2 separate regions of the Homo sapiens genome follow, and region 1 is linked to region 2. Evidence: fine-mapped expression QTL. A gene starts in region 2. The other region holds a variant in brackets. All regions are shown on one strand. Distances are between the middles of the regions.

What was found.
Region 1: its variant is fine-mapped to the expression of NDOR1 in whole blood (TOPMed, PIP above 0.99).

The regions. Positions count from the first base shown.
Region 1 is chr9:137,236,247-137,239,141 of GRCh38, forward strand. SLC34A3 (solute carrier family 34 member 3) reads left to right here. Exons shown (of 13, transcript NM_001177316.2): 13 at 1-309. The coding sequence ends at 170. Among named protein-coding and RNA genes, the nearest start is that of TUBB4B, 3.6 kb to the right of the region's middle. RefSeq lists silencers at 117-446, 467-696. The variant C/T (reference allele first, on the strand shown) is at 1,381.
Region 2 is chr9:137,204,375-137,207,269 of GRCh38, forward strand. It overlaps NDOR1 (NADPH dependent diflavin oxidoreductase 1), which reads left to right and starts at 1,326. Exons shown (of 14, transcript NM_014434.4): 1 at 1,326-1,538; 2 at 1,858-1,935. The coding sequence starts at 1,404. TMEM203 (transmembrane protein 203) reads right to left here and starts at 1,274. Exons shown (of 1, transcript NM_053045.2): 1 at 1-1,274. The coding sequence starts at 1,040. The coding sequence ends at 630. RefSeq lists a silencer at 1,030-1,289.

The DNA.
Region 1 (2,895 bases), 32 kb after region 2:
TCCGCCTGCGCTCCTGGGCCTGGCTCCCCGTCTGGCTCCATTCTCTGGAGCCCTGGGACCGCCTGGTGACCCGCTGCTGCCCCTGCAACGTCTGCAGCCCCCCGAAGGCCACCACCAAAGAGGCCTACTGCTACGAGAACCCTGAGATCTTGGCCTCCCAGCAGTTGTGACGGGCAGTTGCTGAGCAGACCGCCCCACCCTCCCCGGCTGGGAGGGCTCTGGAGGGCCCTGGAGGGGGGGTCCCCGCGGCAGCTGACCTCCGGTCACCTGCTTCCCCTTCTGTGCAAATAAACCAGGCTGTTATCTGGGGTGGCGGTCCTCACTCCCCTAGACAGGGGCCGCCTGCGCAGGTGGGGGAAGCAGCCCGATGCTGCCTCCTGGTGGACACTCCGGGGCCTGGGGCTCAGGCACAGGAGCCCGCCCACCCCAAGGTGTGTTTCTCACGGCAGCCGCTGGGGACAGAAGCTCCCAAGGAATGGCGGGCCTGGGGGGGCGGGGACTTCCCACAGTGGGAGCTGGGGCCCCTCCTGGGGGCGCAGGGGAGAGCCCAGCCAGCAGGGAGCAGGGCCGGTGGTGCAGGGTGTGGGGGATCCCGGAGCTCCTCTGCCCCGGCGGATGTCATGGTTGGGGTGGGGACTGGAGTCCCATCAGGTGCGTGGGGTGTGAGAAGGGACCCTGACGGCTTGGAGGGCCAGGTGGTCCCAGAGGCACCACCTGTCTGTCTGCCCTCTGTGTCTCTCAGCCGGTCCTGGGCTGGGCCCCTCGGGGACACTTCTCTGCAGGGCTGGGCCACGGCAGGTGCTCAGCTCCCAGAACCCACCAGGAAGCCAGTCTCACCCGCCAGGCTGGGGCACACTGAGGCCTCCCACTGCCACGGAGAATGAGACCCTGTCCCGGGAAGGCCTGTCCGTGGGGTGGGCCCAGGAGGGCGGACAGCACCCATGGGGAGGACTTGGGGGCCAGGGGGCCCTCCCTCTGCTGTGTGGTCGGGTTTCCACACAGGAAGGCTTGTCTGCCAGCCAATGGGTAACTGGACACCTAGGAAGTTGAGGGGGGGCTCCTGCCACCTCTAGCCCAGAGCTGCCCACAGCCCTAACCCAACCCCCACTCCCGCCAAGGGAAGAAAGCCTTGGGTTACCCCAGAACTGGAGCATTCATTCAGGCACACAGAGACGGGTGGGTGAGGGGACGGTCCCATCAGGGACAGGTCTAGTTTGCTCATTTGAGTCTGCTGCTGTGGCCAGTCACGTTCTCCCTTCCAGAACTGCAGCCCTGTTGGGGGGCAGCTCTCTTCCCAGAGCCTCCCAGGATTGCCTGGTCAGACCCCACTAGGGGATAGAGGTGCAGCCACTCAGGAAGATGAGGCCTGAGGGGGCCCCA[C/T]GGCCACTTCTCCTCTGTGGCTCTGTTCTTTTCTGCCCTCAGTTTCCCTTTGCCCCTGCTCATGACCCCCAGACCCTCTGTGCCCTTGGCCCCCAGTCTTCCCTGGGTCCTCTGCCCCAGCCACCCCTCAAACTCTTAGGCCTCCTGGGCCTTGGTTTCACCTACCGAGGGAGGTGACCACCTGCTCTGGGAGCCAGGGGTGCCTCAGGGGTGGGCTCCAGTGAGAATGGGACCCCCAGCAGCTAGAGCTTTGGTTCTCACAGCCCTGTGATTCTAGGACGCCCCTGTGGACCTGACATCAGCCTCATAGAACCGTCTGGCACCCCTGTAGGGGACAAGCCTGGCTAGCTCCCTGGGGAGCCTGAGGGGCCGGGGAGCTCCCCTGTCCTTTGGGGGGGGATCAGTGAGGCCCTTGTGGAGAGAGGGAGGAAGCACCCCATGCACCTGTCCTTCCAGGGCAGGTGAGGCCTCCCACAAAGGCTGGGCGTCTGGTCCTTTAAGGCAGCCAATACTGTCTGCCTGCTGTCCCTGCCTGGCGGTAACACACCCTCCCACTGGGACCATGGCCACCAGTAAACAGAGCCTTCGTTGTGGATCCTCCGACAGCTGCAGGAGGAGGAGGGCAGGTGCCCAGCACTCCCACAGCCACGCCTGCCCCGCTTCCCTGCCCTTCTGGCCCTCCTTGGACCACATCCTGCCTGGCCACAGACCCCAGGCCCAGGAGTTGGTCCTCCTGCCCCACACTATCCCGCCTCTCCATCCTGCAGCAGGGCACCTTGGCTCAGGGTGGGACCTACAGAGCCTTCCCCAACCAGTTTTGTGCAACAGGGGTGGCTGCTGTCCTTGTTGGGCTCAGGCCCAGGCTTCAGGGTGTCTACTGCTGTCTTGTCCCCAGCCAGTGTCCACCTCACCAGGGCAATGCAAGGGCAAAGTAGGCAAGCTGGTGCCATGGCGAGCTCTGGGGCTCTCACCTGGGCAGGTGACACCTGTGAAACGGGTGGCACACTGACCTCCCAGCCCTGTGGGCACTGGTCACAGGAAGCAGGGGCCTTTACTGGAGAGGGGTTGGGAGACTCTGACAAGGTGCAGGAATGCCACACACCTCAAAGAGCAGCCTCAGTTGGGCTCTGCACAGTTCACTGAGGAAAAAAACAGAGCTTCTCCTTCTCCCCTTTGTGACAACTCAATGTTATGAGACTCCAACATGTCCCTGACTACTGCCTGGACAGCTGAGCTACTCTGCAGGACCCCAGGATGCCCTGGGCACTAGGAGAAACCTGGGATGGCTGGCAGCAACCTGTGCACCCCTCAGGCCGCTGCAGGACCCCAGTCCCTCTGAGGGTCAAGGCCTGTGTCACAGTGGTCACTGGAAGCCAGGCCCGCCTTCCTGGGCTGATCTGTGGGGGAGGCCACCCTCCTGGACAGGATGGCAAACTGGCAACAGACCCCCGAGGAGTGAGCACAGCTGCAGGCCCTCGCCCCAGAAGGACAATGCTGATCCCCGCGCATGCTCCG
Region 2 (2,895 bases):
CTTTTCTTGGGCAACAGATAACCAGACAGGACTCTAATCGTGCTCTTATTCAACATTCTTCTGTCTCTGCCTAGACTGGAATAAAAAGCCAATCTCTCTCGTGGCACAGGGAAGGAGATACAAGCTCGTTTACATGTGATAGATCTAACAAAGGCATCTACCGAAGTCTGGTCTGGATAGACGGCACAGGGAGCTCTTAGGTCAGCGCTGCTGGTTGGAGGACATTCCTGAGTCCAGCTTTGCAGCCTTTGTGCAACAGTACTTTCCCAGGATCCACAGGAAATACTCAGAGTCCACCTGGACATTTTACTTATATTCAGTTTCCAAGTGTCAGAGGGGTTCAGGACTGTCTGGCCTGGGGGGCCTCCTCATGACCTCAATTCAGGATTATCTACTCAAAGCATTAAACAAAAGGAAATACATTTTCAGGATGAAGGCTGCTCTTTTAAGCCCTGCTGAAGAAACCATTTCAAACAGGATTGGAATAGGGAAACCCGGCACTCAGCTCGGCGCAAGCCGGCGGTGCCTTCAGACTAGAGAGCCTCTCCTCCGGTGCGCTGCAAGTAGGGCCTCGGCTCGAGGTCAACATTCTAGTTGTCCAGCGCTCCCTCTCCGGCACCTCGGTGAGGCTAGTTGACCCGACAGGCGCGGATCATGAGCAGCTGCAGGAGAATGAAGAGCGGGGACGTAATGAGGCCGAACCAGAGCTCCCGAGTCTGCTCCGCCAGCTTCTGGCACAACAGCATCTCGAAGACGAACTTGAGACTCAGGACCGTAAGTACCCAGAAAAGGCGGAGCACCGCCAGCCGCTTCTCTCCATCCTGGAAGAGGCGCACGGACACGATGGTGGTGAAGTAGGTGCTGAGCCCGTCAGCGGCGAAGAAAGGCACGAACACGTTCCACCAGGAGAGGCCCGGGACCAGGCCATCCACACGCAGTGCCAGCAGCACAGAGAACACCAACAGGGCCAGCAGGTGCACGAAGATCTCGAAGGTGGCGAAGCCTAGCCACTGCACCAGCTCCCGGAGCGAGAAGAGCATCGCGCCCGTTGAGCGCGGGCCGGGGCCCGGCCGAGCGTGCCACCCGCGGGGCTGCGTCTCCTCTCCCCGTGGCCCTCGCCCGCGCCTGCCGCCGCTGCTGCGAGCGAGAGGCAGCGAGCGGCCCCGCCAGCCCCAGCCCTCGGCCCTGATGCGCCGGCAATCCCCCGGCCCCGACCCGGGACTCAACCCTGGCCGCCCGTGAACGCCCGCCTCGATCGGACGCCATGCCCCCACAGGGCGCGTCCCTAGTGCGTCACTTCCGGTCGACGGCGGAAGGCGGAAGGCGGAGCGGTCCCTGCAACCCGGCCGGCGGGAACTGCCTTCTAGTTTTTAGTCTCAGACCAGACCACCGGGCGCACCCCGATGCCGAGCCCGCAGCTTCTGGTGCTCTTCGGCAGCCAGACAGGCACGGCTCAGGATGTGTCGGAGAGACTGGGTCGCGAGGCCCGGCGCCGGCGGCTTGGCTGCCGGGTGCAGGCCCTGGACTCCTACCCGGTGGTGAGGGCTCGCTAGGGCCTCGGCGTGGGGGACGAGCAGGCCTGGCGTGCCCGCCTCGCGGGGTCATCGACCCAAAAGGCGTCGCATTTTCTCTGAGAGCGGGTCTTTCCCTTATGGCGGATTTAGGGAAGGAGGTTTGGGAAGGGGAGTTCAGTTTAGCACCTGGAGGAGGTTGGAACCTGAAAGAGAAGACGGTCTGGCTGCTCACATAAATCCCTCTGCCCTGTCAGCCTGAGTAAAGGAGAAGGGGGTCAAGTTTTGGGAAGGACGCCCGGTCCTTACAGCCGGAGGTCTTACGTGTGTGTGTCTTTTTGTTGAGGTGAATCTGATTAACGAGCCCCTGGTGATATTTGTTTGTGCAACTACAGGCCAAGGAGACCCCCCTGACAACATGAAGGTAAGGCTGGCCTGATGTGGCTCCTCAGATCCCTGCCCTCGACCCTCACCCCGTTTTCATTGCCTGGCGTCTAGGTGCAGTAAATAGCTCTCCTTTATCTCATGCACCTTCAGAGGTGGATTTGAGAGAACGTCCGTGAGTGGGGCTGGGGGCTCCGGTTGCCCTCTCTAATAAACTCGTCGTAGCCACCAAATAGCCTTATTATCCGTTTTAACCTTTCTTATTTTTCCAGGGCTATCTATATGTGCATCTAGTCTGGGTCTTGTGTGTATTTCTAGACTGTATGACCCTCAGGGAACGTTGCTGAATTCTCTGACCATCTTTTAAGCACATATTCTATTCTTGGCACAGTCTGGTGCTGGGGATCCAGCTGTGAACCCAGCAGCCATATTTCCATCCTGGCAGAGTTCACACTGTAGCAGAAGCAGCTAACGGGCAATGACAGTGCCAGCAAACACCTGCTGCTGGGGAAAGTAGCATATGTCACAGGAGCACTGATAAGGGGCATCGAGCCTTATCTCACCCAACCTTGGGGCCCAGGCAGAGGTTTCTGGAAGAAAAGAGTGTAAGCTGAGTCACGGAAGGATGCGTGAGGGCTAGTCAGGCACCGAGGAAGAAGGAGCAGTCAGCGCAGAGGAAAAAGATGATTTGGTTTGTGTGAAAAGTGGAAAGCAGCTCAGGGTGGCCAAGCTGAGGAGTACACTGGGGCAAGAGGGGAGGAGAAGAGAGGCAGGAAGCCAGGCCCAGTCCAAAGAGCCTGAGTAACCACAGCAAGGCAGATGGGCTTGAAATGAAGGGTTGTCGGAACTGTAGGGGTGACACAGTCATGTTCCTAAGCTAGCAAAACCGCACTGGTCTGCAGGACAGCAGGAATAATGCCATGAGATGCACAGGACAGGCAGCAGATGCTACCGATCTGAGCTGAAGTGGTGGCAGAAGATAGAAGTGGACACATTGCAG